Regions from separate parts of the Homo sapiens genome. Here all the other regions are linked to region 3. Evidence: fine-mapped expression QTL. A gene starts in region 3. Each other region holds a variant in brackets. All regions are shown on one strand. Distances are from middle to middle.

What was found. PIP is the estimated chance that this variant, and not a neighbour inherited with it, causes the effect. A credible set is the group of variants that fine-mapping cannot tell apart.
Region 1: its variant is the best candidate, but not a certain one, in a credible set for the expression of GOLGA7B in visceral fat (GTEx, PIP 0.53).
Region 2: its variant is the best candidate, but not a certain one, in a credible set for the expression of GOLGA7B in unexposed skin (GTEx, PIP 0.83).
Region 4: its variant is the best candidate, but not a certain one, in a credible set for the expression of GOLGA7B in subcutaneous fat (GTEx, PIP 0.82).

The regions. Positions count from the first base shown.
Region 1 is chr10:97,805,985-97,814,001 of GRCh38, reverse strand. No RefSeq gene overlaps it. Among named protein-coding and RNA genes, the nearest start is that of SFRP5, 38 kb to the right of the region's middle. The variant C/T (reference allele first, on the strand shown) is at 3,426.
Region 2 is chr10:97,874,595-97,882,611 of GRCh38, reverse strand. CRTAC1 (cartilage acidic protein 1) reads left to right here. Exons shown (of 15, transcript NM_018058.7): 14 at 2,220-2,363. It overlaps MIR3085 (microRNA 3085), which reads left to right and starts at 6,715; the gene lies at 6,715-6,799. RefSeq lists a silencer at 1-120 and enhancers at 1-608, 6,288-6,788. The variant A/G (reference allele first, on the strand shown) is at 4,171.
Region 3 is chr10:97,845,553-97,853,569 of GRCh38, reverse strand. It overlaps GOLGA7B (golgin A7 family member B), which reads right to left and starts at 3,727. Exons shown (of 5, transcript NM_001010917.3): 1 at 3,255-3,727. The coding sequence starts at 3,266. It overlaps GOLGA7B-DT (GOLGA7B divergent transcript), which reads left to right and starts at 3,772. Exons shown (of 3, transcript NR_108035.1): 1 at 3,772-3,904.
Region 4 is chr10:97,817,429-97,825,445 of GRCh38, reverse strand. It overlaps LOC107984260 (a long non-coding RNA gene), which reads right to left and starts at 3,549. Exons shown (of 3, transcript XR_001747563.2): 1 at 2,758-3,549. The variant A/C (reference allele first, on the strand shown) is at 3,927.

The DNA of each region.
Region 1 (8,017 bases), 40 kb after region 3:
CCTAGGCCACCCTGCATTCGAAAGCAATGCGAATGCGCGGAACTGTCTATAAAAATGGCCAATTACTAGGGATAGTCATTTTACCCAAACTTGATTTGGGGAATAATTTTGTGGTGGGGGGCTAATGATCAGCCTTTTCTTCAGAACAATCTCTGTTCGCAGAGACAGTAGTCTTTGAGATGTGCCGGGGTGAGAGCTGTCTCTATCTCAGTCATTTGTCACCTACAGACTGGCACAGAACGCAATTCTGTGAGATTTGACGAAAGAGGACATGTCTTCCCTATGACAGATTTCAAAACAAAGTACGAAGAGGGCCTCAATAGCTACAAAGAGGGTCTGACAAAGAAGGGGGCATTCTCCTGAGGCTCTTCAGGCAGGCCAGGGGTGGGCCTGAGAAGTTGAGGGTGACATGGGAAATTAGAAAGACTGGTGGGCACCGTTAGTGCCTACCCTAAAGTCACTGCCTTCTCTTTATTGCTACAGACTCTGATATTTGTTCCAGCCTCAGAAGATGAATCATGATTGGGCTAAACAAACAAAGTAATCTCATTTGCTTTTCCCTGATTCTTACTTTTCCATTTTCCCTTGCCGTCAAGATACAGTTCCAGCCAGTGAAAAATAAAGACAAATCTGAGGGAGGGCTTCTTGCTTCCTGATAAAAGAGATAGACATTTAATGGAAGAAACTGTCCCTTTCTTCTCCTTCTTGCCTTGAATGTGGTTGAGTGAGGGCACGATGGCTGAAGCTGTGGCAGCCATCTTGCCATCAAAAGGTAACAAGCTTGTCCAGGCACTGTGGCTCATGCCTGTAATCCCAGCACTTTGGGAGGCCGAGGTGGGCGGATCACCTGAGCTCAGAAGTTCAAGACCAGCCTGACCAACATTGCAAAACCCCGTCTCTACTAAAAATACAAAAATTAGCTGGGTGTGGTGGTGTACATCTGCGGTCTCAGCTACTCAGGAGGCTGAGGCAGAAGAATCGCTTGAACCTGGGAGGTGGAGGTTGCAGTGAGCAGAGATCGCCCCATTGCACTCCAGCCTGGGTAACAAGAGCGAAACTCGATCTCAAAAAAAAAAAAAAGTAACAAACTGAAGAAAAGCAAACACAGTGAGGATGACTAAGCAGAGAGATGGAAAGAGCGTGGATCCTTTCAACATTTTTTATCTGCTCATCAACTCTGGATCAGACTTCTCAGATAATTCAGTGTCATCGTGGTTTAAGCCACTGTCCATGGGGTCTTCTGTTACCTGCATCCTATCCGACTCAAAGGGCAGAGGCAGACAGATACAGGCTGCAGGATTCAAGTCACATGAATGAGAGCAGGTTGAAGAAGCAGGGGCCGGCTGGTTGAAGACCTGGAGGGTGGCAAGAGACAGAGTTCTGCAGCTTCACCAGGTCAGGGAGAGTATTCTCATCATTTCCCAGGCTATCCAGCCTGCCAACAGAAGGCTGGACATGCTACACGGGCCCACTGCTCTGGTGGTATTCCAGATGTCTCTCATCGGCGATTACCTGAAGCTGCCATACAAAGAACTGTTGCCCTTTATAGCCACAGAGTTACATGGACCTGGGTTTTTAACATACTGTAACCTTGGACAGAGGAGAAAAGCTAATCTGTGAGGCAATGTGATCTCTTTTCAATTCAGTGCAATACAAAAAAAATAGCTAGATGCTTTGCAGCTGCATCCCATGCATTAATGAATAGGGCAGCCACTCTTTGTATTCTTTCCTGATGGTAAATTATCTTAAACTTTTTATATTATAATGACTTGTTCAAGTCAGGAAGTGCTGCAAAATCCACATGAATTAAAGATCAGACACAAGGCTTTAGACACCCTTCTCACTCGTAGCTGACTTGAATGGTGTTCACACGCCTCTGTCTCCAGGGGTGCTCTCAGGCAGAAGCTGGAGAAGCACCAATCCACAGCCACCTGTGAGCCAACTTATCAGCAAGGAGGTTCCACCCTCAGAGCATCAAACTGGGGCGGGTCAAAAAGGGTAGCTCAAGATCTTCAAGACCAGGGAGCCCAAATTCATGGCTAGAAAAAAGACACAATTCTAGGGACCAATTTAGGTTCAATAGGAAGCCTGAAGTCTGGGTACCAGGTCAGAGCTGAGCCCTGACGTCCAGAACCACATAGAACAAGAGCATAGCACAAGCAAGAAGAAGTAGAAGCATCCTGGAGGAAGATCTTTGCTAAAGAGTTTCTTCATGCCCACCTGAGCCTGCACCTGCAGCGGGAGGAAAGTGCTTCAGCTGGTTCGGGACAGGTGGCAGGATTGAGGCTGCAGCCAGGGTCCTCACAGTGGTTCATGTCTCCAGAGTAATCATCACAATGGCTTTCATTTGAGAGTTTGCCATGTACCAAGCACCATGCTCAATGGCTTTTCAAATCCTCACAAAGCCCCATGATTTAGCCCCTAGTATTATCCCCACTTGACAGATGAGGAAACTGGGGCCAAGAGAGGTTAAGTCCGTTTCCCAAGGCTTCACTGCCAGTAAGCGGTAGAGGCAGGTTTCAAAGCCCAAGTTCTAGGCTAGGTGTGGTGGCTCACATCCCAGCACTTTGGGATGCCAAGGTGGGCAGATCACTTGAGGTCAGGAGTTCAAGACCAGTCTGGCCAACCTGGTGAAACCCCCTCTCTACTAAACATATAAAAATTAGCCAGGTGTGGTGGCGTGCACTTGTGGTCCCAGCTACTCAGGAGGCTGAGGCAGGAGAATCGCTCAAACCTGGGAGACGGAGGTTGTAGCGAGCCCAGATCGTGCCACTGCACTCCAGCCTGGGCCACAGAGCGAGACTCCATCTCAACAACAACAACAAAAAGCCCAAGTTCTAAGTCATTTTGAATCCCAAGCCCACTCACGCTTCACCTCCCCTCTTCCTTCTCCCAGATCTCACCCTTCTCTCCTAATGTCCTGCCTGTCACTGTGTGGTTGGTGCTGTTACCTCCTGCTGCCATATGGTGACCTAATGATACCTGAGTGTGTTCCTTATCTCCCCAGGAGCCCTGTAAGCTCTTTAGGGACCATAAGCATTTAGGTTATGCTTTTGGCTGCAAGTATCAGAATGCCCAACTGAAAGTAGCTTATGTAATAAGGACACTTATAATCTCATACAAGAAGCCTGGAGGCAGGGGACATCCAGATTATGTTAATTCAGTGGCGCAACAAAATCAGGGCTTCGGGTCACCTTTTCTGGCATTCTCTGGGCTTACCCAACCCGGTCATAGAGGCCTGTGACAGTGACAAACATCTCATTCTCACGCAATAATATCCAAAAGACAGGAAGAGGCCTTTGTACGCCTTGCCTTAAAAGCCACTACAATTTTCCCATTGCTCTCTCGATGCACACATCTCCTGATGACTCATTGGCCAATTGTTAGACCGCTGAATACCTATCACATGCCCAGACCTAAGGCAA[C/T]CACTAGCAAGAGGACTGGAAATATATGTAATCAGAGATAAGACAAATGGTATGGGCTTATTAATATATGGCCTTTGGAGCTGGAGAAGGGGTCATGAAACACAGTTACCTGATACCAGAACAAAATCTCTTTCAGTCTACAAGGAAGGAGGTTTGACTGTGAATTGACAGCTATAGGATCTGATTCAGGGGCCCTGTGCATCTGGGCCTGTGCTAGGTACTCAGTAAACACTTCTGGTAGGCCAGGTGTGGTGGCTCGCCCCCATAATCCCAGCACTTTGGAGGCTGAGGTGAGAGGATTGCTTGAGCTCAAGAGTTCAAGACCAGCTTGGGCAACATAGCAAAACCCTGTCTCTACAAAAATATGTATTTTTTAATTTAAAAAGCTAAAAAAACACTACTGATGGTATTGAATGGTACCAGTCACTCCCAAGGATGGTTTGAAATATCTTCCTGCACCCACCCAAGCAACAGCAATTTTGGTCATCTTACAGTATGTCAAGTTAAAAAAAAATTCCCTTTGATATAAGACAGGTATATTTGTCCATATATATATATGTCATATTAGGTGGGAACAGTGTCAATCTCTAATAATAATATCAATAATCCTATTATCCAATATTTCTTTTGGCTGCTAACTATGTGCTTAGCAGCCCTTGTGTTCAGCAGCGAAGCCCCTGATATAGGCATGATTACTAGGTGGGAAGGCAGTATTTGTCATCATGATTAAGAATGCAGGCTCTGCCAAGCATAGTGGCTCACACCTGTAATCCCAGTTGCTTGGGAGGTTAAGTCAGGAGGAAAACTTGAGGCAAGGAATTGTTATATTGCCTGGGCAATATAACAAGACCCTATATCTACAAAATTTTTTTTTATAAAAACTTAGCCAGGCATAGTGGCATGCACCTGTAGCCCCAGATACTTGGCAGGCTGAAGCAGGAGGATCCCTTGGGTCCAGGAGGTTGAGATTAGGTTACAGTGAGCTATGATCATGCCACTGCACTCCAGCCTGGGCGACAGTGAGATTCCCGTCTCCAAAAAAGTAATGTAGGCTCTGGAGTCATATCCCAGCTCTGTCACTTGCTGTGGTGTGATTTAGGTAGGTCCTTGACTTCTCTAAGCCTCAGTTTCCCTGTCTGTAAAATGGGGGTCATAATAGCACTCTGGCTTTGGTGTCTAGCTGACCTTAGGTTTAAATCCCAGATCTGGCACAAACTAGTCATGTAACCTTAGGAAAGTCTCTTCACCTCTTTGGACCTACCTTTGCTCAGGTAAAATGGGGAAAATAAAGCCAACCTTATTGGGATGCGGGGAGGGTTAAATAAGAATACATAGAAAGCACATAGCACAGAGTCATCATTCAAGGGAGTGCCCAGGAGAGTAAAGTGTCTAGAGATCATAATAGATAAAAACTGGTCAAAAAATCCAGGGATCTTGATATGACAGCAGCCTGCAGATGTCTGCGGGGGTGCCATCTGGAAGACACACTGGGTTTACTTGGTCTGACTCCAGTGGGCAGAACCAGAACCACAGGGTAGAAATCTCGGGGAAGGAGATTTAGTTTCAAATAAGAAAGATTCAGCCAAGCATGGGGGCTTATGCCTGTAATCCCAACACTTTTAGAGGGTAAGGCAGGAAGATCACTTGAGCCCAACATGGCGAACCCCGTCTCTACAAAAAATATATATAAAAATTAGCCGGGGACAGTGGCGCATGACTGTGGTCCCAGCTATCTGGGAGGCTAAGGTGAGAGGATCACCTGAACCAAGAGGTTGAGCCTGCAGTCAGCTGTGATTGTGCCACTGCACTCCAGCCTGGGCGACAAGAGTGAGACCCTGTCTCAAAAACAAAGAAAGATTCCAGCCGGGCGTGGGTGGCTCATGCCTGTAATCCCAGCACTTTAGGAGGCCGAGGCAGGTGGATTGCTTGAGGTCAGGAGTTCAAGACCAGCCTGGCCAATATGGTGAAACCCCATCTCTACTAAAAAATATAAAAATTAGCCAGGCCTGGTGGTATGTGCCTGTAATCCCAGCTACTCAGGAGGCTGAGGCAGGAGAATCGCTTGAACCTGGGAGGCAGAAGTTGCAGTGAGCCAAGATCATGCCATAGCACTCCAGCCTGGATGACAGAGCCAGACTCCATCAGGAAAGAAAGAAAGAAAGAGAGAGAGAGAGAGAGAGAGAGAGAGAGGTAGGGAGGGAGGGATTACCTTTTCTCCACTGTGAACAATGGCCTTGTAGGTAGTGACTCTGGCGACCTAGACCACATCAGGCAGAGGCCAGCTGAGCCCAGATCCCATTATCTCTGAAGGCTAAATGCATGCATCCAATCAAGGAGACCTAGCCCCAGCTCCCAAAATGTTAAGGAGCTGCTCTCATATATAGTAGTCTTCAAACTTTGACATACATTAAGAAATGCTTGAGAAACACATTCCAAAAACCGACTCCAGGCCCCCTTCCTAGAGATTCAAACTCGGCAGATCTGAGCTGGAGATCTGCATTTCCAACAGGATGATGCAGGTTCACGTGGTCCAAGGGCCAATCTTGATGACCTCTGCCCTCAACTCCCACCTGCTGCTGTTTCAGAAACTCAAATGTGGGGGTCGAGTCCACAGTTAGGAACACTGCACACAAAGAATTGCTTTGAACTAAGAAGACAGACCCAGGGGAATCGTCCCCACCCTTGGAGGTGCCCAAAACAGGTGCTAATGAATTCTGGTCCTAAATCAGGAGGTGCAGCACGCAGCACCTAAGAAGGAGAAAAGTTATTCAATGTGATCTCTAGAACAGGTGGGGATGAGACAGCGAGTCAGGATGCTCCTCTCTAACATGCACCCACAGAGCCAGCCCTTGGAGAGCATACTGGGGGAGATCGGGAACCAGTGGTTGGGAAGGGGGCAGGACCCAACCATATGGGGTGCCACTCGTCTTGAGGCCTCTGTGATGCCACCCCCTAGAGTTGTCCACTGCTGGGGGCCCTAAGGATGAGGCTACAAATACACAGATCAACCCCTTTTGCAAAGCATTCAAAGCCCCTTAGAGTTGGGCCCCAGCCCACCCTACAGCCACCTTTTCCCCTGAGTGGCCCCTCCTGGAGCTAATTTATTTGCAAGAAACTGGGAATTCTATGGGCAAACTGCTCTCCCAGAGTATTCCTGGCTCCTGCCACATGGTTCTTCCAAGCCTGAATTTGCGCAGCTCCCGCCCACTTCCAGACCTTCAGGCATGGGTGCCCTTCCCCAGCTCTACCTCTGTGGGCCTTGGTGAATCCCGCTCAGCATTCAAAACCCCATCAAATGCCTCCTCTTATGGGAAGCCTTTCCAGTGTCCTGGACACAAACACACACACACACACACACACACACACACACACACACAGGGCAATCTGGGTCCCCCAGCACTGTGCTGTATTCAAGAACAGAGCTTTATACATCACCATGTAGCCTCAGAGGGCAGGGACCTTTGTTTTGCACACTGGTCACTGGCATATCCCAACTGCCCAGGACAGTGCCCAGCACACGGGAGGTGCTGCATAAACACTTGTTGAATGTGGCCAGGTGCGGTGGCTTGCGCCGGTAATCCCAGCACTTTGGGAGGCCGAGGTGGGCGGATCACTTGAGGCCAGGAGTTTGAGACCAGCCTGGCCATCATGGCAAAACCCCATCTCTACTAAAAATACAAAAATTAGCTGGGTGTGGTGGTGCGCGCCTGTGGTCCCAGCTACTCAGGAGGCTGAGGCACGAGAATCACTTGAACCCGGGAGGTGGAGATTGCAGTGAGCTGAGATCGCACCACTGCACTCCAGCCTGGGCAACAGAGTGAGACTCTCTCAAAAAAAAAAAAAAAACACTGTTGAATGCATAAATTTTGCAGGACCGAGGCTTCTGGCCACTTCAACTAGGTGAACCAGCAACACGCCAGGCACCACCAATATTCTCAGCTGGAGGAAGAGACTCCTGGGAACCTCTCTTGGTTATGTAAAGGTGAGGCAAGTAGACACTCATTGCCCAGGACCTCCTATGGCCTGACAAAGATCACCACGCCCAATCTCCCTTGGTACACAGAAGTAATTCCAGAGGAGCAGGTGGGTAAATTTGCAAATTTCCAGGAGACCAAAAAGTTTCCTGGAAGAATGCCTTGCCCAATCCCAGCACCCTCGAAGATGGATGTGGTGACATCCACATTTCAGGACATAGCATCGTGGATCTAAGCCTCATCCCTGGCCTGGAAGTCCCAGGGAAGGGACATGGCTTGGGATCGAAGCTCACTACCTCTTAGGACTCAGCCCCTCGGGAGCAAAGTAAGCATGAACTAAAATAACTAGAACTTCAAGAACATGAGAATGGGGCAGGCTCACAGCCTAGCAGGCCAAGGCATCCCTGCAGCAGCAGATGAGGAGGCCCAGGAGTGCCCAGGGCTGGGTCCGACAGCTAAAAACCCTGAGCGAAGGGGCGGCTCTCTCCAAAGTCTTCTGACACAAAGCACCGTGGATTCTTAGGTTATTCAGGAATGGGGGAGGCCTCACTAGGGAGAAACCAGCTAGTGGATGTTTGCATGATTAATTGGAATAATAAGAGCCATGATTGCATTTTG
Region 2 (8,017 bases), 29 kb before region 3:
GGGTGGGAGTGATATTAGTGACCCACAGGCTGAATCACTGCGGTTCTGGAAACTGGCAGTGTTTTCCTGCCATGAGTACCGAGAAACTGCAGATGGGAAGGAGACACACCACCAACCTGGCACAGGGGGAATAGCCACATGCCATGGCCAGCAAGTCCATGTGGAGCAGCAAGCAAGGGGGCTGGCAGGCAAGGGTGTGCATTGCCAAGGGCATTGGGGCAAAATAGTGTATGGAGTGTGGTCACAGTGTGGAACGGAGACTGCAGCCTGGTGCAGTACTGGGGCAGGCAGGTAGCTGCAGCACTACCAGGATGGCAGCTCCTTGACGGTCCAAGAACCTTCTGAAAGTCCCCAAGAGCCTGGAATGGGAAGGGGCAGCCTAGAAGTTCAGTGTCCAGGAGACCTTCACCCCCAACACTTTCCATCCCAGTGACCAGCAAGGAGGGGTCAGGCCAAGGATCCCTCCTTCCTTGAACCCTCATCCAGCATTCTTCCCAAGTCTACTCTGCAGCTGCTCATTAACCCTTTGCTACTGAGATACAGGAGTAAACAAGACAGATACCACTCTCAGGAGCTGAAAACCAATGGAGAGCCACAAAAGTAAACAGCTGTCGACCACACAGTGTGATCAGGGCCCAGATGGGGGAGGGCAGGGGCTTGGAGATGACAAAGCAGGGGCCCTAAACCAGCCTAGGGAGGGTCCTAGAAGGTGCCCTAGAGAAAGTGAGGTCCAAGCTGGGCCCTGAGGAATGAGGAGCAGTTCGGCAGTCACAGAGAGGGGAGACATGGTTCTGGTGGGGGGCACTGTCTGAACAAAGGAGCACAGGTGGGGAGGTGGAGGAGCAGTGGTGCCAAGGGTGGCTGGAGGAGGAAATGACTCCCCTACACTCTCCACATGCCCACCCAGCCCCACTCCAAACACATAGTGCAGGTGCATAGAAATTCCAGAGTCTTCTCTGCCTGCAGGAAGGACCCTTTGAGATCAGCCTCCTCTTCCTTTTCATCGCCCAACAGGCAGTTATGTGCCTCGTACACAGCAAGTGTCATGCTGGGAGCTGGGGATGTAGGCCAAGTGCCACCCCCGCGCCTCCACAAGAGGGGCATCCATTCTAGTGGAGGGAGACAGACCCTGAACGCATGACCACACACCTGGACAAGATGATTTCAGAACCCTCTGAGCAAGGTGCTCCCTGGAGACTGTTCCAGAGAGAGTGGTCAGGGAGGGCCTCGGGGGGAAGACTCTGAGCTGAGACCTGAAGGATGAGAAGGATCTAGGCCCAGAAAGAGTTGAGGGAAGGGCAGGAGTGAAAAGCGGGAGACAGGACAAAGGCTTTGTGTGTTGAAGGAGCAGGAGGGATGCCAGTATGGCCTGGAGATGATGGAGAGTCCATGAGGCCCCTGTAGGGAGTCTGAATTTTGCTCTTAGGAGCCTTAGAAGCTAAACTGGGGAGTGACATGATGTGATTCACATTTTTAAAGGCTCCCTCCAGCTGCTGAATTGCAGAGTGGATTGGAGGGAAGAGGGGAAGCCAGGTATTCTGTGAGGAGGCAGCTGCAGAAATCCAGGCAAGAGGTCACGATGGCAGGAAATTGGGTGGTGGCAGAGGAATGAGAAAGAGGTGACAGAGAGAGGTGGACTGGTGGACTGCGGGGCAGAGTGGACAGGCTCTGCTGTGAAATTGCACAGGGGGCAAGAAAGACGGAGAAATCAGGGGTCGCTCTGATTTCCCCTTGAGCAGCTGATTGATGATGGGGGTGTTGATTGAGCTAGAGAAGACAGAACAGAGGGCCAGAATATGGGCAGGGCAGGGCAGAATCTGGAGTTCTATTTTGGACATATTAAGCATGAGGTGCATCTTAGACATCCAAGTGGAGCTGTCAAGTAGGTCATGGGTTATTGTATTCGTGAGTCTGGAGCCACGGGGAGAGGTTGTGACTGGAGATAGAACTTTCGGAATCATCCATGCATGAAGAGATCACCTAGAACGATTGTAGTAGACAGAAGAGAGGACCCAGGACCAAGCCTGAGTGCCCACCCCCTGCCCCCAGCATGTAGAGACCAAGTACAGGAGGAGCCAGCCAAGGGAACTGAAGCAGGGAAACTGAGGCTCTGCGAGGAAGGCACATTCCCAAAGCCAGACAGTGTATAGGCAGGCAGAGCCTGGGCTGGTACTTGCTGCCCCACACCTTCATGGTGAGTGGTTCCCCTCGCCTTGCAGACACCAATGAATGCATCCAGTTCCCATTCGTGTGCCCTCGAGACAAGCCCGTATGTGTCAACACCTATGGAAGCTACAGGTGCCGGACCAACAAGAAGTGCAGTCGGGGCTACGAGCCCAACGAGGATGGCACAGCCTGCGTGGGTGAGTGGGGCCCCAGCCATAGGCCAGTAGCAAAAGGATGTTGCTTTCCACTGGGGAGCTCTGGGTAGGCCCCAGATCAAGGTCCCCAGCCCCTTCCTTCTCCTGGCTGGATAGAGTCTCCTTTGACCCATATTGGGTCTCCAGGGAAGACCATGACAGAGGCTTGGAGAAGCCCCATCACTTCTACCATCACCTGAAGGGCCAGGGGATGCTGTGTCCTGGCCTGAGGCTATCATTCTTCTTACTTTTCCTAAAACAACTGTTCCTACCTTGAGGTCAGCCCGTATTTTCATAGCTGGGATATAAACTAACTCCTACTACTCATCTTTGGCTGAATTTCTAAACTGGTAATTTCTTCTTCCCAAACTCCTTCCTCCACCCCCACCCCGTCCCCACCCCCTTTCTCTTTTTCCCATTTTCTGTCTCCCCGCCGCATCGTTTTTGCAGCTCAAGTGGCCTTTTTAGGTGGGTATTCTTCAGCCGCCTCTAGAATCTCTGAGCCTCTCTCTCGGGCCTCATATCTTTCTCTAGGCCTTGGACTTTGCCTTCAGTTATATGCACTTTAAATCCCATCAATAAAGGAAAAAACAAAACAAAACTAACAGCCTTTGTGGAAAACTAAATCTCTCTCCTGCTGCTTGTCTCTCTCTCCACGCCCAGTAGGTTCTGCTGTGTGCTCCCTCTGAATGGACAACAGGGGTGGCCATCTTTGAAAAGGGAAGGTTGGGCGATACTGACACAACCTTAGTTGTTTGTGAAGACTTTCTTTGCATGTTTTCTGAGAAAACAGAAAGGAAAGTCTCCAATACCCCATCCAGTCTCCCTCACTCCTTCAGAAGAATCAAGATAGTCTTGTATCCTCCAGTGTCTCGTGAGCTCATTATTTTGCCCTTAACAAAGATGGCTCCCAGGTGGTTGCTTGCCGGTTGATCCGATAATGTACCATGTGCCTGCTGGTTTGGCCTGTGCTGTTTCTGCTTTTTGCCCCTGACTTCCTGTGCTAGAGAAAGCCTTATTGGTGTTGGTGGTGGTGATGGGAGGGAAAAGGGTGGTCCTTTGGGACTCTTGATAAAAATGTTATCATTTGAACTTGCTAAGCCTTCCAGCCTCTTTTCTGAAGAAATTATGCCAATAAACTCTCTACTAGATATTAGTGCCAAACTGATGATAAAAAGGGTCTGGGGCAAGTAGAACTGATTGGAATGCTGAATTAGGAGCAGCCCTTCCACCATGAGATGCTTTGAAAGCAGATCATAACACAAAGCAGGTGTCACCCTCAGGCACCAGCAGTGGTTTGGTTGCGTACAACAATGTTCACATTTGGGGGACCAGGGTTTGGGCCAAGTGAAGGATGTGTGATGAGTGAGGGGCAGAAATGGAGTGTGTACTCTAGGCCTTTTACCTGCAGGAAGTCACTTCTCCATGCTGTGCCTCAGTTTCCCTAATGTAGATGACAAGAGAGTTGGGCTGGTATATCCCTAAGGGCCTTTCCTTTCTAAGACTCCTCAATGTCTGGCTGGACATAGGCCTGGCTCATCTCAGGTTACTCTGATTTCTAGAAAGAACCTTGCTACTTGGTCTCTGCAATCTCCTTGGAAAATAGAATGCTCCTGTAGCCAGAACACTCTTTGGAAATGATGTAACGCCACAGAATATGCTCACGACCAGCCTCAGTAGTGAAGGCTTGTTATAAAACATAGATCTATTCTTCATGGGGAAAAAAAGTCATCCCAGGATATAATAAAATTACACTTAAGAATGCAGCAACCCTTTTAAAAACATATTCAACAAAAAAAAAGCCCCTGCC[A/G]TTTTCTGATATCATGGTAATACTCCTAATAAATCACAAAATATGAATTCCTTGTAGCTAGTGCTGTTTTTACACTTAGAACAGAAGCATAAATGAAAAGTTTTTAAATTAAAACAGCTACAATTTCCCTGAAAAGCAGACACCAACTTAAAAATCATTCCACTTCTAGAAAGCCCATTCCTGTGTATTGACATAGAACTAAAGATCTGAAAGGGCTCCAGAGATGAGGCTCAGAGAGCTGAAGTGTTCAAGGTCACTGTGCCCAAGGTCATGGAGCCCACTGCTCCCCAGGCCAGGGCTGGAGCCCTTTCCCACCACACCATCTTGTCAGAGGGTAACAGGCAGCTCTGTCACTGTTCAGACTATTCCCTAGTCCTTCTGGAAGCTGCTGCCTTTTAAAAAATGAACAAAGTGGATCTAAGATAGTGAGATAAGTAAAACCCAAAACCCATGGAGGAATGGTTCCAAATGCAGTGGTAAATGACAAGATAACAGAGCCCATTGACTGTCCATACACAACAGCACAAGAAATAAGGGACAAGACAACTACAGAGATGGCCTGCCAAGGACATCAGGGGGTTCAGGGTGACAGCAGACTTCAGATGATGCCTTATAAGTGACAACCATGAATGCCTTCACAATGAGTTTTATATAACAGGGTATATCTGTGTCATGTGATCCTGTTGGGTGAGTGGGGTCCAGTGAGTTGCAAAGAGGAGTTCTAAGTTCCCACAGCTGATAAGAGCACCACTGCAGCACTCAGACTCCAGGATAAGGCTTCCATTTGATTCATTCATGAGTTCAACAGATACTGATTGAGCACCTACAATGTGCCAAATATTTGGTTAGGCTCTAGGCGTACAATGGTAAATGAAGGTAACAATGGTAAGTAAAAGTAATATGTGTTGATCCCCTACTACTATGTGCAGGTACTGAGCTAGGCTCTAGGCATACAATGGTAAGTGAAAGCAATATTTGTTGAGCCCCTACTGTGTGCCCAGTACTGAGCTAGGCTCTAGGCATACAATGGTAAGTGAAAGTAATATTTGTTGAGCACCTATTATGTGCCAGGTACTGAGCTACGCTCTAGGTATGTAATGGTAAGTGAAGGTAACATTGTTGCCACCCCTACGCTGCCTTCCCTCCAGCCAGATAGAGGAGCCAAGTGCATGGGATGGGAGTGGGACACCAAGGGGCTTTCTAAAAAGTTGAGCTGAATTCTCAGGTTGCTATACCAGAAAGCAAGCTCTCTGCATTCATTCATTTACATATTCATTCAGCAAGCATTTATTGAGAATATCCTGTATGACAAGCACTAGGTTCCTCCCATGAGGAATGTGATAGAGACCCTCTAATGAGGTGGACAAGTCCCCTGCCCCCAAGATGCTTGTGTTGCAAGAGATACAAGGCTGAAAGATACAGAGGACAGGTGGATAGTGAACCCACTCAACATTACCTACCCCCTTACCAAAAAAAAAAAAAAAAAAAAAAAAAAACAGAGCCTCCTCATTGAGCTAGCAGTACAGGCTTTTTGAACAGGTGCCTCAAATTCAATGCATCTACTGGTCTGTGCTATACCAGCCACAGATTTGCGGGTGCAAAGCCACCCCCAAGCTACCCAGGCTCAGCATTCCCATTCCCCTCTTTCTTCTAATCCCTTTCTCTGAGACCCGTGGGAGCCCAAACCGTTCCGTCCCCTCCTGCACACAGATAAGTCTGTCTTTTCCCTGTCCCTTAGCCCCACCTAGGCTCCTGACATCTTTGTTGCCTTATGCTACACTTTAATTTGTAACAAAAATAACAAATGCCTTTAGGGGCAGTCAAGTAATGAAATGGACCCGGAAGGGATTATGCAAATGGAGGAGCTGGTGCCCCACCTGCCTGCACCAGGCAGCCACAACTCACTCCAGTGGGAAGGTGGGCCAGTGCTGCCACAAAAATGCTCCCCATTTTTCAACAAAAAAGAAATAATAAGAATAATACCATTTTTATTCTGCTCAAGAATACTCCCTCTTCACAGGCACATACCCCTTAAAATGACAATAATAGCTTACATTTAGTGGGCTTGGCGTGTCTGGGTTGAATCTAAACTCTTTACAATAATCAACTCGTTTAATCCTCATAATAATCTCAAGAGGAAGGTATTGTAATTATCCCACGTTTACAGATAAGCTAAATGGTTTGTGCAGGGTCATACAGCCCAGACAGACGAAGGCAGGACTGGATCCCAGGAGTCTGGCTGTCAGCTGGCACTCTCAACTACCACTCCCTTCTTCATTTGGGATGGTGAATTGGTTTAAGCAAAAGCCACAGTCACTCATGCTGCCCAGGATCAAGAGCAGGATTGGGAGGGGAAAAATGGAGCCCCTGGAGGCCTAGTGATCTGAAATAGTCCTCCCCACGGTCACGTTCAAGTCTGCAAGAAGAGGTGGCAGTGCTTGCTAATGTCGAGAGTCCCCTCGCCAGGCGGGCTCAGCCAACCTTCACTGAGGCAGAATGGTAAACCATCCACTAGGCCTCTTCAAGCATCTACACGGTTGCCAACCCTACTCTGGGAAGGTGCCATTCTGAGGGCCAGGAGTTTGATTATGTGTCACTCTGGCTGCTATGGCCCCCTCCCAGGGTCTGGGTATCACACCCAGGCCAGTGCCACTGGACCTCGGCCGAAGCAGGAACTCCGCTCCAGACTCCAAGAGCCCCGTGTAGACAGGAAGATGAGCACTTCATTTTTGCAGGGAGCCAGCCAAGTTCTTCCAACAGATTCCAGGCTGAACCTCCACCCAGACTTCCAGCCCAGAAGGCAAACCGAGCCCCTCCCTGCCTCCCTGTGCCCAGGGCCAGTCTTCTCTGAGGCCAGAACCCCAGCCACAGGGGCCAGGAACATGCCAGAAGTTGCTGTTGTGTCTGTAGCAACAGGCATATCCTGGAAGGAAGGCAAGAGAACATGGGCTGGTTAACACCACAGATGACGCCAGCCTCTCCCACGGTGGCTTGTCCTCTAAGGAACTACTGTTGACAGTGAAGTGGTCAAAAAATAGGCCACCAGAGGGAAAATGAGACGCAAGAGAGAAGAAAAACATCCTCCAGGAAAGCAGCTAACATTTATGCAATGCCTGCCATATGCCAAGAACTTTACATCCATGTCTCCATGAATACTCACACCCATCCCAGAATATAAATGTTATGAGTCTATTTTATTACCAGAGAAACTGAGACTCAGAAACAGTAAATTACACAAAGTCACATAGCTAGCTAAAGTGGCAAGAGCTGTAATTCAACCTCATGACTAGCTCCAAAGCCTGGGTTCTTAAGCCTTATGCTGTGCGATCTCTAGGTAACTGACACTGGGGAAGTTATTTAACCAGTTGTTCATGTGATGTACAGTGACTGAACGCCTACTGTGTGCTGGATGTTGTTCTAGTGGCTTGGGATATACATCTGTGAACAACACTGGCAAAGGTCCCTGCCCTAGCAAGACGTGGCAGGCACTAAACAATACCCAGAATAAGGAAAGTCTGTAGCATGTTGGAGCATGATACGTGCTATGGAGGGCTGGAGAAGAGTAACATCAAGGCCATCCGGGAAGGCCCGGATGGAGGTGGAATGCCATTTTAAATAGCGGCGGGGGCAGGGGGGCTCCCTGAGAAAGAGGCATTGAGCAAAGACTTAAAGTAGGTAAGGTGTCTTTGAACCTCAGTTTTCCCATCTGCAAGATGGGGATAATACCTCACAGAGTTATTATATTAGACTTGACATGGTGCCTGGCACATAGAAAGCCCCCAACAAATTAGAGATACTATTATTAAGTAGCCACGTTCAGGATGGAGCCCCGGGCCCGTTCAGTGCC
Region 3 (8,017 bases):
ATAAGGAAGAAAATCAGTGGTGAGACCCATGGGTACCAATTTTCAAACTGCAGTATGAGAAGGAGGGGGAGTCTGCCTGGAGAGTGGGTACCACAGGTCACACATTTGGCTCCTGTTCACCTGACAGTCAACTAGCTGGGGTGCAGAGGAACAAGCTCTAGAGTGCAAATGAGCTCCTGGTCCAGTCTGCCCAAGTCCAACAGGAGTGCCCCCCTGGCGCCATCTTCATCCTCATTAAAAACCATCTCATTCCATAGGATGCATGTGAGGCATCGAGAATTAGGAGGTTCCGCTGATGCCAGCACTCTGCTTCCTGGCTGGGGTGTGAAGGAGGAGTGAGGATCATGAGTCACAGACAGCCAGGTCAGGCCTAAGGATAAAACACCAGCCACAAGACCTCCCTTCTTCTCAGCCTGTACCAGTGCTCAAGCCTGACCCAGTTGTCTACTCATCATTAATTCCATGCCTCAAAGATCAAACCTCCAAACACCCTGCTTGAATAACGCTACTTGGATGCATTTAAAAATCTCTTAGAGACCAAACCCCACCACTTGGAGAAGCCCCTCCCAGCCAGGCACTTCCCAGTTGTCCTTGGCCATCTGGACTATTTCCCAGGGCAGACCCTGCTCCCAGTGACACACATTCACAGAGGTTTGCTGCTCAGAAAATGGGCTCATTGCAGCTCTCCAAATGAGGTCAGTGTATCACTCAGGAGGCTCCATCCCTCCTCTGAGTTCCTTACAGACACCTCTCCCCTAATGCTAACTCCTAAACAGAAATTAGGGAACAGAAAAGACCCAGTTTCCACCCATGAATTTCTTCCCTCTCCCTCACCCCTCCCTCTCTGTCCCTCTCCCCACCCCCTTCCTCTCCCTCTCTCCTTCTCTCAATACAGCTTCTCCTAGAGCTGAGGAGTTCCTATTGAGAATCCTAACAGAATAATCATGGGAACTTAAAGCGATGTTTTCCCTCTCCCAACAAGTTTATCCTGGTAATCTCAACTCAATTCTAACAGTAAAAACAGCCTTGGGAGAATGACTCACCCCACAACCCAGAATACGTGCAGGTCCTGTGCCCTGGCAGAGCTAAGGCTTCCTGCCTCAGTTCTGCCATCAGAGTCCACCCAAGGCCAAATTGTGAAGTGAGGAATGTTTGTCCTCAGCTCCCCATCACTCCGGGACTTTCCTCTGTCCCTCTGCCCTCAAACCAACCCAGCCAGGCCAAGCAGGGGGCCTGAGTCCCCACACTCCAGCCCTTCATGACTTCCTTTGCATCCCTCTCTCCACCAAAGCTTCACATCAAGACCTGGAGGGCCCTCCTCTCTATCAGGTGACACAATAGGCTAATTGGATGCAGGAAAAAAAAGCACTGGCCAAAGAGGCAGAAGACTCAAGTTCTTATCCCATCCCTGCCACCTTTTAGCCATATTTTCCTGAATAAGTCTCAGCACTTCAGTTCCATCATCTGTAAAATGGGATAATGATGCCTTCTTTGGCTCCTTCACAGGGACCAGGCAAGTTTCTGAACCTTAGTTGTCTCATCTGTTAATTGGGCATAATAACACCATCCTTACCCACTTCATAGGGCTGCTCTGAGGCTTGAAAGAGATCACTTATGCGATAGTGCTTTGTACACAGGAAAGCGCAATATTTTCAGAGGCGTTATGAGCAGAGCCCCTCCCAGGGGAGAGTCACACATGTCTCATAGCAGCCTCCTGGAAACGCTGTCTTGACATAGAGATAGAAGCCTGCTGGTTGGAATCTGTGGGCCATGGCAGACATCCTGGGACAGATGGGCCTGTTGGAATCTGTCAGATCACATCGCAGAGGCAGCTGCCTTCTCTGCCCACGCTGCTGGCCCAGCCATGCCCATGTAGCTGAAGTTCCCCTTTTCTGTCCAACACAGCAGCCTCTGCTGCAGTCTGGCAGCCCTATCTGGAAGGTAACCAACTCCTTGGTTTCTCCCTTTGTTCTTCCTGCTGTCCTCCATGTCTTTGGTGCTTTGTGAGTACTCTGCATTCCTCTACTCTAGAAACCAAGCTCCCAGGGTCTGCCCAGGGCTTGCCCTCACACCAAGTCCTGAGGGGCAACTCTCCGCCTAGCTAACCTTGTGCCTTGTCAGAATGCCAAGCAATGCCAAGCAACAGCACCTTGTTCTGTGGTGGAAACTTGAGTGGAATAACAACAGCCACACTTGGTATTAATGTCACACTGCTCACCAGGATGCCCAGAAGCACTGCATTGAATCATTCACAGGCCTCTGCTCTCCCCCAGTGTATGCCAGCTGGATTGGAAATGGGGAGACACCACAAAGGAAGTCAACATCAGAACTGGGGAGACCCTGATGTCCTGAGTTTCGCTCCAAAAATTCAAAGGCAAAAACTTTCCGCTCTGCTGCTGACATGCTGTGTGGAGTAGCAAATTAGTCCTTTCGTTTTCCACACATCACCTTTATCATGTATAAAGTGGGAACATAAAGAGCCCAATCTCCCTCCTGAAATGAGGGGGGAAAGGGCAATCCCTAGGGGTAGAGGGGGGAATCCTCGACCTCAAGCATTATACCAAGATTCTGCCCTTAGCTAACAGGCCCCGTGGTTCAGCCTTCAAGTGCTTGAAGGTGACACACCTATCAGTGCACCTTGAAGAAGGCAGAAACTCCCATCAGATGGAGGGGAAATCTGGACACCCTGGGACAAAAAAAAAAAAAAAACTCGAATGGGGTAAAAAAGCAAGAAGGGTGATATGCAAAAGTGGAGACCAACCATTTGGGTTCTCAGCCTGAGGATGTCTTTGTCCCCTCCCTCCCGCAAAGGAAATGCGGATGTAGAGGTAAGTCTGTCATCCCTTAGCCAAGCTTTTGGGTTCAGAAGCTGACTGCATAGCAACAGCGGACAGCCGCCTTCCCTCCCCTCACACACGCACACACACGCGTCTCCAACCCTCTAGGAAAGCGGTTTCAGGACTTGTGAAGTCCAGGGAAGGGGAAACCCCAGCCTGGGGCCCTGAAGCAACCCTGGCGCTAATGCCAACAAGTGTCGCGGACAGCTTGGGGGCTCAGGTGGGGCGAGGGGAAGATTGACACGCAAGGGGGAGATGAGCCCTCACTAAGCCCCTACCTCCTCCCTCCAGACCTGACCTGGGGAATCACCCCATCCCACCCCCAACTCCCGCCTCCCACTCCTGCCCAGCCCACCCCTAGGGCATTTGGTCCCGCGGCAATCGGGCACTGCCTGCGGGTGGGGCGCTCGCCCCTACCTCGGTGGCCATGATCCGGGGGCGCTCGGAGGCTGTCGCGGGGCCGGGCGAGGGGGGTCTCCGCGGTGCTGACCCCGGGAGCAGGTGGGCGGCGGCGGTGGCGGCGAGCTGGGGCCCGGGGCGCTGTCCGCAGTGCTGATGCGGGCGCCGCGGGCCCGGGCTCAGGTGGGCCGGGGGCGGGCGGGCGGCTGGGTCCAGGCAAGGGGCGCGGCGCTGTCCGCTGTGCTGAGGCAGGCGCCGGGCCCGGGAGGCGAGGCCGCGCCCGAGGCTCCTCACGGCCCGATCGCCCGCTGCCGCGGCTCCTGCAGGCAACGGCCGGGTTTAGCTTTGGCGGCGGCGGCGGCGGGGATGGGGGCGGCCGGGGGAGGAGGGGCCAGGAGCCGCCGCTGGCCGGGAGGGGGAAGCCGCGGCCCCCAGACTCCGGCGCCGCCGGAGAGGAGCCCCGCCCGGGCCACAGGCTCGGCTACCGCCCCGCGCGAGGCCCCGCCTCCCCTTCCTGCCCTCCCCCTCGTGAGAGCCCCGGAGCTCTGCGCTCGCTTCCGTGGCCCCCGGGACATCCAGCCTGAAGGACAGTGGGGCAGGAATTTTTCCGGGGCAAGACGCTTCAGCCTGCAAGGCTGACCGCTCCCGAGCCGCTCGCAGGCCCGCAGGTGAGGCCTCTCTACCTTTCCAGCCACCCCCAGTGCCCCGGCTCTACCCCTCCCTCGCCCCGCCCCCAGCTTCCTCTTTAGAATAATTTCTTTTCTTTCTCTCCCTTTTCCTCTCTGTGTGCCCCCCCCCCATATACACACAGTCAGGCTTGCACGGACGGCCCCTCTTTTCCCCTCTCCTTTGCACTTCCTGGAACCCCACTAGCTAGACAAAGATCCTGCCGACCGCAGAGAATCATTTCCTTTCTTTAAATACGTGCCCACATTTCGTTCTCAGCCATAGCCTGGGGTCCCTTCTTTCAGGCAGCTCCAGAATTGAAGCCAGTCTCTCCTTGCTGCTCTTCCTGGACCTGGTCCCCACCCTTTACTCTTCCCTCTCTCCTCTGCAACCCGAGTTTACATACACGCACCACCACTACCACCACCACTCAAAAACCACAAGCAGATGGTGCCAAACCGGTATGCTCACTCTCCAAGGATGGCAGGTCTGGCTCTGGTGCCACCTTCGCACTTTTGACATCATAAATTCCAACTAAATGATCTATTTGTTTAATAAAAAGGAGACCAGGTGCAGTGGCTCACACCTGTAATCCCAACACTTTGGGAGGCTGAGGTGGGAGGATTGCTTGAGCCCAGGAGTTCAAGACCAGCCTGGGCAAGACCCTGTCTGCACAAAAAATGAAAACATTAGCCGGGCGTTGTGATGTGTGCCTGTGGTCCCAGCTACTCAGAAGGCTAAGGCAGGAGAATCACTTGAATCCAAGAGTTCAAGGCTGCAGCTAGCCATGATTGTGCCACTGTACTCCAGCCTGGGCAATAGAGCAAGAGCCTGTCTCTTAAAAAAATAAAAATAAGGCCGGAAGCAGTGGCTCATACCTGTAATCCCAGCACTTTGGGAGGCCGAGACGGGTGGATCACCTGAGGGCAGAAGTTCAAGACCAGCCTGGCCAACATGCTGAAACCCCATCTCCACCAAAAATACAAAAAAAAATTAGCCAGGCATGGTGGCACCCGCCTGTAGTCCCAGGTACTCAGGAGGCTGAAGCAGGAGAATTGCTTGAACCCGGGAGGCAAAGGTTACAGTGAACTGAGATCACACCATTGCACTCCAGCCTGGGCGACAAGAGCGAAACTCTGTCTCAAAAAATAAATAAATAAATAAATAAATAAAATAGACATAAAAAAAAGGAAACACCAACACAAGTGCCTTTTTACATACCCATAATACCCCTTGGTCTCTTTGAGGGGTGGTGGGGTGTGCTCCTCTGCAGCTCACTGCTGCCTGAGAGTCTGAAGCCCACACACAGGGAGAACCTGGCGGCCAAGAGACCTGGCCCAGGCTTTTCCAGCTGTATAACCTCGAGCAACTGTCTTGTTTTCTGAGCTTATGGTTCTCTTTCTGTAAAATGTGAGTGTTGGATTTCACTAGACTGTTTCTAGGACCTTTTGTTTTTTCTCCAACCTTTTATTTTGACATTTTTAAACATACCAAAATGTTGAAAGAATAGTACAATAAACTATGCCATCTACCTAGCTCCAACAATTGCTTTTTGCCACATTTGCTTTATTGATAGATATGAAAACAGAGCTATATTTGCCTAGATTATCAGAAGGTGACAGATATCGTGGCCGGGCGCGGTGGCTCACGCCTGTAATCCCAGTACTTTGGGAGGCCGAGGTGGGCGGATCATGAGGTCAGGAGATTGAGACCATCCTGGCTAATACGGTGAAACCCCGTCTCCACTAAAAAATACAGAAAAATTAGCCGGGCGTGGTGGTGGGCACCTGGGGAGCTACTCCCCAGCTACTGGGGAGGCTGAGGCAGGAGAATGGCATGAACCCAGGAGGCAGAGCTTGCAGTGAGCCGAGATTGCGCCACTGCACTCCAGCCTGGGTGACAGAGCGAGACTCCGTCTCAAAAATAATAATAATAATAATAATAATAAGGTGACAGACATCGTGAGGTTTTATCTGTAAGTACTTCAATGAGATTTTATCTGTAAGTACTTCAATTCACCATGCATCTCCCAAGAAGAAAAGCGTTATCCCAACTAGGCACAACACCATTCTCATGCTTTATTTTATTTTATTTTATTGAGATAGGGTCTTGCTCTATCACCCAGGCTGGAATGCAGTGGCACCATCTCAGCTCACTACAACCTCTGCCTCCTGGGTTCAAGTGATTTTCAGCCTCCCAAGTAGCTGGGATTACAGGCACGCACCACCATACCCAGCTAATTTTTGTATTTTAAGTAGAGACAGGGTTTCACCATGTTGGCCAGGCTGGTCTCAAACTCCTGAGCTCAGGTGATCCGCCCACCTCAGTCTCCCAAAATGCCAGGATTACAGGCATGAGCCACCGCACCCAGCCAATTATCATGCTTTTAAAATGCCCATATTATCTAATATTCTAGAACAGTTTGTCACCCCTAAAACACATTAATAGCGATGACCCCTCAAAAATTTTCCCAGAACTTTTCATTTTTAGTAGCTAACATTTAGTGAGCACTTACCATGTGCCAGCCCATATGCTACACACTTTACATGTATGATCTTACGTAATCCTCACAATTACTCTTTGAGTTGTGTTCTTGTGATCTTTTTATTATTCCCACTTTATAAATGAGGGAACTGAGTAAGTTGCCCAAGGTCATAGGGTTTGTGGGGAATGGAGACAGGATTCAGACATGGGCAGTCAAGCTCCAGAGCCTGTGTGGTTGATCCTCCTAACTGTATTGCCTCCCTCCAGCATCTGGTAGACCATAGACTAGCAGAGCAATGACCACATCTCCAGCTGCCTATTTTGCAGATGAAAACGCTGAGTCCCAGAGTGTAAGTGACATGCTAAAGAAGTTAAAGGCGGGTGTCTCATTCTACCTTATAGTTTGGCATAGGATTTGGCATAAAGGACCAAACAGAATATCTATGAATCCTGCAGTGGTCACTGGTAATAAAAGAACACATAATCTGATGATCTCCATGTAAATTTCACAGTTCCTCCCACTTGATTTTTATCACATCAATTAGACAACCTTCTGGAAACCATTCTCTTCACCTGATGACTAGATATCTGGATGAGGCCATTCAACAAATCCATTCATCAACATCTATTTGTTGAACACCTACTGTGTATCAGGCACTCTTCTAGGAAATTGGGATACAGTCGTGACTAAAAATGCAAAGCCTCTGTCCTTATTGAACTTATATAGTAATGGGGGTAACAATCCATGACATAAGCAAATATGTGTAAAATATGTCAAGTTTTGATCACTGCTAGGAAGAAAAGTGTGATCACTGCTAGGAAGAAGATATGGTAAGGAGATAGTGATAGAGAGGGCTTATTTTCGAAAGAATAGTCAGGGAATACTTTTTTTGATAAGGTGAAATTTGGGTAGAGCCCTGAAGGAAGAGAGAGAACTAGACATATAGATACCTGGAGGAAGAGTGACAAGGCAGAGAGGACAGAATCCAAGGGCCCTGACGCAGGACTGGGCTTGGTATGTTCAAAGAATAGCAGGAGGCTGGGCGCAGTGGCTCACACCTATATCCCAGCACTTTGGGAGTCCAAGGCAGGTGGATCACTTGAGGACAGGAGTTCAAGAACAGACTGGCCAACATGGCAAAAGCCCATCTCTACTAAAAATACAAAAATTAGCCAGGTATGGTGGTGGCTGCCTGTAATCCCAGCTACTTGGGAGGGTGAAGCTGGAAAATCACTTGAACCTGGTAGGCGGAGGTTGCAGTGAGCCGAGATTACACCACTGCACTCCATCCTGGGTGACAGTGTGAGACTCCGTCCCCAAAAATAATAATAATAAAAACAAAGAATAGCTGGAAGACCAGTGTAGCTAGACCTGAGGTGAACAAGGGGAAGAGAGTTGGGAGTTGAGCTCAGAGAGGTAGCAGGAATCAGGTCTTCCAGGGTTTTGTAGGCCCTGATAAAGACTTCAGATTCTACTCATAAAGTAAGATGGCAAGCCTAAGAAGGTTTAGCGTAGGGGTGTGACATCATCTAATTGCAGTTTTTGAAAGATTCCACTGGATGTCAGAGGGGAGGCAAGGCTAGAAGCTGCAAAACCAATTAGGAGACTGTTAGAGCAGCCCAGGCTTAGA
Region 4 (8,017 bases), 28 kb after region 3:
ATTAGCCAGGACAGCCACACTTCCAGCAGACAGTGGGAAACAAGTAACTAAGGAGGGGAGATGCCACAGCAAGGAACAGGTCAGAACAACATTTGATGCCAGTCACTAGGCAAACACCCCAGATCCTGGTCACTCAAGGTATTGTAACATGCCAGGTCAGGGAGGATTTGAAGGTGCAACGCCCTCACTTTACAAATGAGAGGCCCAGAGGGGGTAAGACACTAGCTCAAAGTCACACAGCGAGACAGGAGGAGGCTTTGGACTTGCCCCTGGCCGCACTCTTCCTACTGCACCAGGCTCCCCCTCATCAGGGGCCACGTTTGTTTTTTGTTTTTTGTTTCTTTTTTCTCCAGATGGACTCTGGCTCTGTCACGCAGGCTGGAATGCAGTGGCACAATCTCGGCTCACTGCAACCTCCGCCTCTTGGGTTCAAGCAATTCTCGTTCCTCAGCCACCCATGTAGCTGGGATTACGAGTGTGCACCACCACACCTGCTAATTTTTGTATTTTTAGTAGAGATGGGGTTTTGCCATGTTGGCCAGGCTGGTCTTGAACTCCTGGCCTCAAGCAATCCTCCAGCCTCGGCCTCCCAAAGTGTTGGGATTACAGGCGTGAGCCACCGCACCCAGCCAGAGACTACTGTTGAACTGGACTGACCGCAGGAGCAAAGCAGCTTGTTGAAGGCCCTGTAGCTCTGTTTCCCTTGAAAGATATCAAAACCCTTTCAGCATCTTAATCCCCAAAGGCATGACACCTGACATCAGTCTCTTGAGTGGCCTGCAGGGAAGCCATTGTCCAAGCTGTGTGCAGCCACCAAATCCACTGACTAAGCTCTGAATCCGCAGTCTCCTGAGGTTGCCGTTTGTTCTCTGTCTATGGACTGCTACTACATGTGCAGCTGCACTGTGCTTGAAACCTCAACAGCGTATCTCAGGGGTGGGTAAGGGAGGCTGGGATAAATGGAGCCCCAGCCTCTGAAGGCCTGACGTGGAGGTTGTGCAGCTCATCCCTGGGGAGTCCTATCTAGTGGGGGCTCGGGGGGCGACTCGGGGATCTGTACCATAAGCAAACTCCTCCAGGGATTCTGATGTGCTGCCATGTTGGGGACCACCAGCCTAATCCAGCCCTTCCCTCATGGAGTCCCCTCCTCCACACCCTCACAGAAGACCACTCATCGGGGGACTGGGAGCTCATCACCTCACAGGTGGCAGTGCCCCAGCAGTGAGTACACAGGCTGTGCCACGCTGAAATCTGCGTCCAGAATCCTCGTCTGCCCTCTGTGGCTGACCAGTCAAATGTCTCTTCTTCCTCAGGAACAAAATCAGACCCTATTGCAGCCCTGTGTCCAACCGCTGGCCGCCCAGATACTGTTCCTGCCCGGGGGGCTCCTGGTGTCCCCTTAGGCCTGACAAGGGAGAGACTCTCCGTGTCCAGCACGCAGGCTCCATTTGCGGGTAACTGCTCCTCCTCCTGCCCCACCCACACACGCCCATCTGTGCCAGACACCGCCGAGCACCAGGACACAGTGTCCTCCCCAGCCTGAGACCAGAGCAGGCCTGATCAGGAACACGCAGGACCCTGCCTTCTCTGCCCAGTGGCCTCTTGCTCCTGGTGCCATCGTGTCTACTTGAGATATTTCCAAATAGAGAATATAGAAACAATGAGCATTCCTCCCAAGAAACCGGGCTTGAAATCAGAACACCTGGGTCCTCCCAGGGCCCCCATCACTTCCAGCTATGGGACCTTGAGCGAGTCCCAGGGCCCATCTGGTGAATGGGGCTGCTGAGGGAAATTCAGACAAGCATCAGAGCCCACCGTGCCCTTCCCTCTCGGTGTCAGGTGTTTTCTGCCTTTGCCTGAGCCGTGGCCACACTCCCTTGCTAATCCTTCAGACGACTGACACGTATACAGCTGTTGCCCTGGCCTGAGACCCTGATGTGGCCTGACCGGCATGGGCCCCTACCCAATGCACTAACTAGCAGCAAATGAGCCTTATTAAAAAATATTTGAGGCCGGGCATGGTGGCTCATGCCTGTAATCCCAGCACTTTGGGAGGCCGAGGTGGGTACATCACTTGAGGTCAGGAATTCGAGACCTGCATGGCCAACGTGGCAAAGCCCTATTTTTACTAAAACAAAAAAAAAATACAAAAATTAGCCAGACGTGGTGGCGTGCGACTGTAATGCCAGCTACTTGAGAGGCTGAGGCAGGAGAATCACTTGAACCCGGGAGGCAGAGGTGGCAGTGAGCTGAGATCGTGCCACTGCACTCCAGCCTGGGCAACAGAGCAAGACTCTGTCTCAAGAAAAAAAGAAAAGAAAAAAGGCCAGGTGCAGTGGCTCTCACCTATTTATAATCCCAGCACTTTGGGAGGCTGAGGAGGGAGAATTTCTTGAAGCCAGGAGTTTGAGACCAGCCTAGGCAACACAGGGAGACCACATCTCTACAAAAACTTTTAAAATTAGACGGCTGTAATGGTGTGCGCCTGTAGTCCCAGCTACTCAGGGGGCTGGGATGAAAGGATTGCTTGAGCCTGGGAGGTTGAGGCTGCAGTGAGCCAAGATCGCACCACTGCACTGCAGCCTTGGCAACAGAGCAAGACTATCTCTAAATAAAAAAAATTTTTTTTTAATAATTGCATAGAGCTGCCTAGCACAGTGCAGGGACATGAGGGTTCAGTAAATATTTGTGGTATCTAATTTAGGAACACCAACCTGTACCCACCAAGGAGAATAAAAAATATACCTTAGTACTCACCTAGTTCAACCTTTTCATTTTACCAATGAGGGTTCCCAGAGAAGGGAAGTGACTCATCCCAGGTTTCCCAGCAACTTTAGTCCATAGTGGCTCAGTTTGCCCAGCCAGAAATCCCCAATGCTCCCATCGAAGGTTGTGGCGCTGACAACATCACAGCTGAGAGGAGGACTCCATGGTGCCCAGAACCCCCGCAGCGCCATTCACCAGAGGTGGACAACACTCCCTCCCGGCATCCCCCTGGGCCTGGCTTCTGACCAGAACCCTGCCCTGGACATCTCAAAAGCCCTCAGGACCTCGGTGCTGCCACCTGCTCACAGAGTGTGGCGGGTACGGGGGTGGACAGCCCACGTCCCTCTGCCAGGTTATTTATAAAGTGTTTTCAGATGAGTCAGGCACGGAGCTGCCCAGCACCACCAGGGACTACCCCCTAGAAATGCTAGAATGATCCTGAGCTCTGGAACCCCACCCCACCCCTTCATAGCCTGCTTCTCATGGAAAGCTAGAGGCAGGAAGGTGAGGCCAGGGCTCTGGGGCTGTTGTGATGCCCCCCGTGAGCCCGGGCAGGCCAGGCTTGGGAGACAGATGGGGAGGCCCCAGGAAGGAGAAGAAGGGCCTCGGACAGGCCCCCTCCGGGCCACAGACCACATGCCCCTTCCCCTTCCCCCTCCCAAACAAGAATGACGGGACAAGCCCAAGAAGACAACCCCCACCCTGTGCCCCAGGCGCTGGCTGCTCGCACCTCCATTCCTGTGTGTACTGCTCTCCGCCTCCGCCAGGAGCCCAGCTATTTCTATCTCTATGGAAAGGGAGCCCAAGCCTCCAAGCCTCCTGCCCCCCTTTCCTGCTCCTGGCAGTGCTCTAATTAACTCCTCAGCTGGATGCCGCCTGCCATGGGTACTCTGGCCAGGGCTGCCATGAATAACTGCACCTGCGCTCACACCCAGCTTCCCACAGAGGCTGGGCCCAGTGCCCCTGCAGAGAGTGTGACCACTGGGAGCCTGGTCCTGGGGGCCTGGACTCCCCCGGCTATGCACTCTCCTTTGGGAGCCTGAGCTGAGGGCATATGGGGGTCTTTGGGACCCACCCTCTCCTCTGCAGCCTCCACCACAACCCTGCAGGGGCTACTTGCTGGTTCAGCAATCCTGCTGTGTGCCTGGCATGGGGCTCAG[A/C]CCTGAGCAGGGAAGGAGTCGGGAGGGCAAGGAGATGAATAAGCCTGTCCTCCCTCAAGGGAGGCAAACACATAAACAACTCATTATGCAATGAGAAGGAATGAAGTTAGTGCTAAATTAAGGTACAAGCTGGGCACCAAGACTGCAGGCCCTCAATTCTTCCCCACTTTTTTTTCTTATTATAAAAGCAATTCATACTCATTTTACAAAGAATTTATATATGCAGATAACAAAAAGAAAATTATAATACATTCTTTATCCATCCACTCAAGGACAACTTTGTCCATACCTGTGGCCCAGACTTCCAAACTTTTTTTAACAGAGCAAGGACAGGTCACAGATCTGAGGGTCTCTCCTCCAGGGACCACCCGCCTGGCTCTGGGACAGTCTTTCCAACTTGAAATTCACAAGAAATGCATAGAAAGATTTCAAAGCAAATAATATGGATAGTATGACAAGTTCATGTAAAAAGAAAAATCCCAAAACTCTATCAATGCCTGGAAAATGTCTGGAAAGATACTTACTAAAGGGTCAACATTTATCAGCTAGGGGGAAAGTGATGGAGGAGCAGATAGACTTTTTTCTGCTAGAAATGTCTTTGAATTGTTACAATAAGCATGGATTTATATAAACTTTATGATTTTTTAAAATGAAAACTTTTTTAAAAAAATTGCTCAAGGCATAATTTCCAAATTTTCTATGGCGTTGTCTTATCTTTGCACTTAGAATAATATAATATGAAAACTAAAAGGAGGTACAGCCACTGTGGAGAGCAGTTTGGCAGTTTCTGCAAAAGGTAAACAGAATTTCCGTATGACCCACCAACTCCACGCATTTGGATATGCTCGAAATGACTGAAAACAGGGACTCCCCTTGTTCACAAATGTTCATCACAGCACTATCCACAGTAACCGAAAGGTAGAAACAACTCAATGTCCATCAACGGCTGAATGGATAAACAAATCGTGTTATGTACATGCAATAGAATATTACTCAGCTATTAAAAAGAAATAAAGTGCTGACACTTGCTATAACATGGATGAAACTTAAAACATTACGCCAAGGGAAGGAAGCCAGACATAAAAGGCCACAGAGTCTATGATTCCTTTGAAATGAAATGAACACAATAGGTAAATCCATAAAGGGAGAAAGCAGATGAGTGGTTACCAGAGGCTGGGGGGAGGGAGAGAATGAGGAGTGATTACTTAATGGGCACAGGGTGTTTTTCTGGAGTGACGAAAAATTTTGAAACTAGTGGTTTTGAAACTGGTGGTTGTACAACATTGGGAATATACTAAATGCCACTGAATTGTATAATTTTTATTTATTTATTTATTTATTTATTGAGACAGGGTCTCACTCTGTTGCCCAGACCAGAGTGCAGTGGGGTGATCTCGGCTCACTGCAACCTCTGCCTCCCAGGCTCAAGCCATCCTCCCATCTCAGCCTCCCACCCCCAGCTCCCACACCACCACACCCAGCTAATTCTTCTACTTTTTGTAGAGACAGGGTTTCACCACGTTGCCCAGGCTAGTTTCAAACTCCTAGACTCAAGTGATCCTCCCACCTTGGCCTCCCAAAGTGCTGGGATTAGAGGTGTGGACCACCACACCCAGACTGAATTGTACACTTTAACACGGTTCCTTGTATGTTATGTGAATTTTATCTAAAAAAAAAAAAAAAAACAAACAAACAAACAAAAAAAACCACAATGAAACATTAAAAATAATAAAAACAAAAACAAAAGCAAAAAGCTTAGTCTCACTCAACTTTCATGCCCCCCAACCCCTGACCACCTGGCCTTCGAGGGTCTTGAAGGAAAAATCTTCAACCTGCCCACTGGCAGGGCCAAGCCACTTGGCTCCCAGAAGGCCTTGGAGAGGCAGGGGCAGTCCAAGGGAGAAAAGTACCCCCAAGTAAGAGAGGGGAGAGGAGCGCAGAGGCAGGAGCTGGGCCAGGCAGACAGAAGAGGGAAAGCAGCCATCCTGCACCAGGCACCACACTCCCGAGGAACCCTCGGATATCCCTGAGAGGTCAGAACTGCTATCCCATTCTTCAGATGAGAAAACCAAGGTTCAGTGTGGCTTGGAGGCAGGGCTGGGACCTCCTGACTCCAAGGAGGAGAGGCAGGGGAACCTGGCATAGCCCCAGGTTGTTTTCTATTTGTTCCATCTATTTTTTTCCCCTTTTCTGCCTTCTTTTGGACTATTTTTGATTATTCCATTTTATCTTCTTTATTGGCTTAGCAGCTGTAACTCTGCTATTTTAGCAGTTGCTTTAGTGTTTATAGTACACATCTTGACCTTTTCACAATTTACCTTCAAGTGATGTTGTGCCACTTCACATCGAGTATAAGAACCTTACATTTACAGAATTTACTTCCATTTCTCCCCACCTGGCCCGAGTTCCCCCTCTCTGGGTTGTGGCCGAAAACACTCTCCAGGTAGTAAGCAGAGACAACCATAGAGCTCTGTGGGACCCCTGAATCTTGTAGCCTAATGTCTAGTGTCTTGAAAACCATTATTTCATATGTTCTGTCTGTTTTTTAAAAATTGTTTCAGGCAGGAGTATAAATCCAGTCCCTGCTACCCTGTCTTGGCCAGAAGCAGAAGCCCCCAACATGCATAGGAGGAAACCAGGACTCAGAGGCTAATCCCCTCACCCAAGGTGAGGGAGCCCATAAGTGGACAGGCAGGAATCCAACCAGCCCTGGTGCTCTCTTCCCTGGCCCACTGCTCCTGCATGAACCAACTGAGAATGCAGAAACCACTCTCAGTAGGAGAAAGTGAACTTTTGTCACCACAGCAAAAAGCTGCTCACAGCATTGTTACTGCTTTGGAAGCCAGTGGGACAATTCTTTTGCATAAAGTTACCCATTAAAGAGCAACTTTCAGCATCTTCCAAGCCTCACCTTAAATGCTCTCTCTTTGCATCTACAGAAGCCTCTGTGGCATATTCCCCACGGTGTTTGCTGTCTAGCAGGATGCATAGGTCTGCTGAGAATGTAGGATCAGCCCCCTATAAAAGTACTCTGTAACCTATAATATGCTGTAACAGATGGAATTGTCTCCCCACTTACCCTCCCATGAGTATTTTCTGGCTCAATCTAATCACCTAGGTGGTGGAATTGCGGTAACTCTGAGTGTGTGTATGTGTGCATACGTGTGTGTGTGTGTGTGTGTGTGTGTGTGTGTGTGTGTGAGAGAATTTGGAGGCAAGGAGGAGGCCCGTTTTTATCACACTAGTCAACTCACTTTACGTTCAGGGATCTATTTGTCTTTAAGCAGAGGGAGAGGTATTTTTCCTTAAAATCACTTGAGGCAGCTGGCTGAGGCCAGATTCCGACAGAATCTGATGGGGGACGGGGCCTAAAATAGCCTTCAGCTCCTCCCCACCCTCTATCTTGCAGGCAGAGAGGAGTCGGGGCCCAGTTCTTTCCCAAGCCCTCTCCTCCACCAGCTGACCCCAGAAATACTTTATTTAGAAAATCAATCTGAAAGCAACAGGAAGGACTTTCATTCCTACCAGCACCTTGTCACACATCAATTTCATTTAAGGCTCTACAATTCCACAGCTGTGAGGCGCAGGCAAAGTCCTTAGCCTGGCCAAGACTCAAGCTCCTCATCTGTAAACTCCCAGGACTGACCGTTAAGTGGCAAACATGATGCATGTGGCACAGATTGGGAGCTTGAATCTTAGGCTTCTTTCCGTCCTCCTCATAGTCCATTCACCTTGTTGAATGTTGACAACAGCATTCAGCTATTGGTGTTACCAGCAAAAGTGTTACCCAGGCCGGGCACGGTGGCTCACTCCTGTTATCCCAGCATTTTGGGGGGTCAAGGCGGGCAGATCACCTGAGCTCAGGAGTTCGAGACCAGCCTGGCCAACATGGTGAAAACCCGTCTCTACTAAAAATACAAAAATTAGCCAGGCGTGGTGGTGAGCACCTGTAATCCCAGCTACTCGAGAGGCTGAGGCAGGAGAAACACTTGAACCTGGGAGACGGAGGTTGCAGTGAGCCAAGACTATGCCACTGTACAATCGGAATGAGTGAGACACCATCTCAAAGAAAAAAAAAAACAGCATTACCC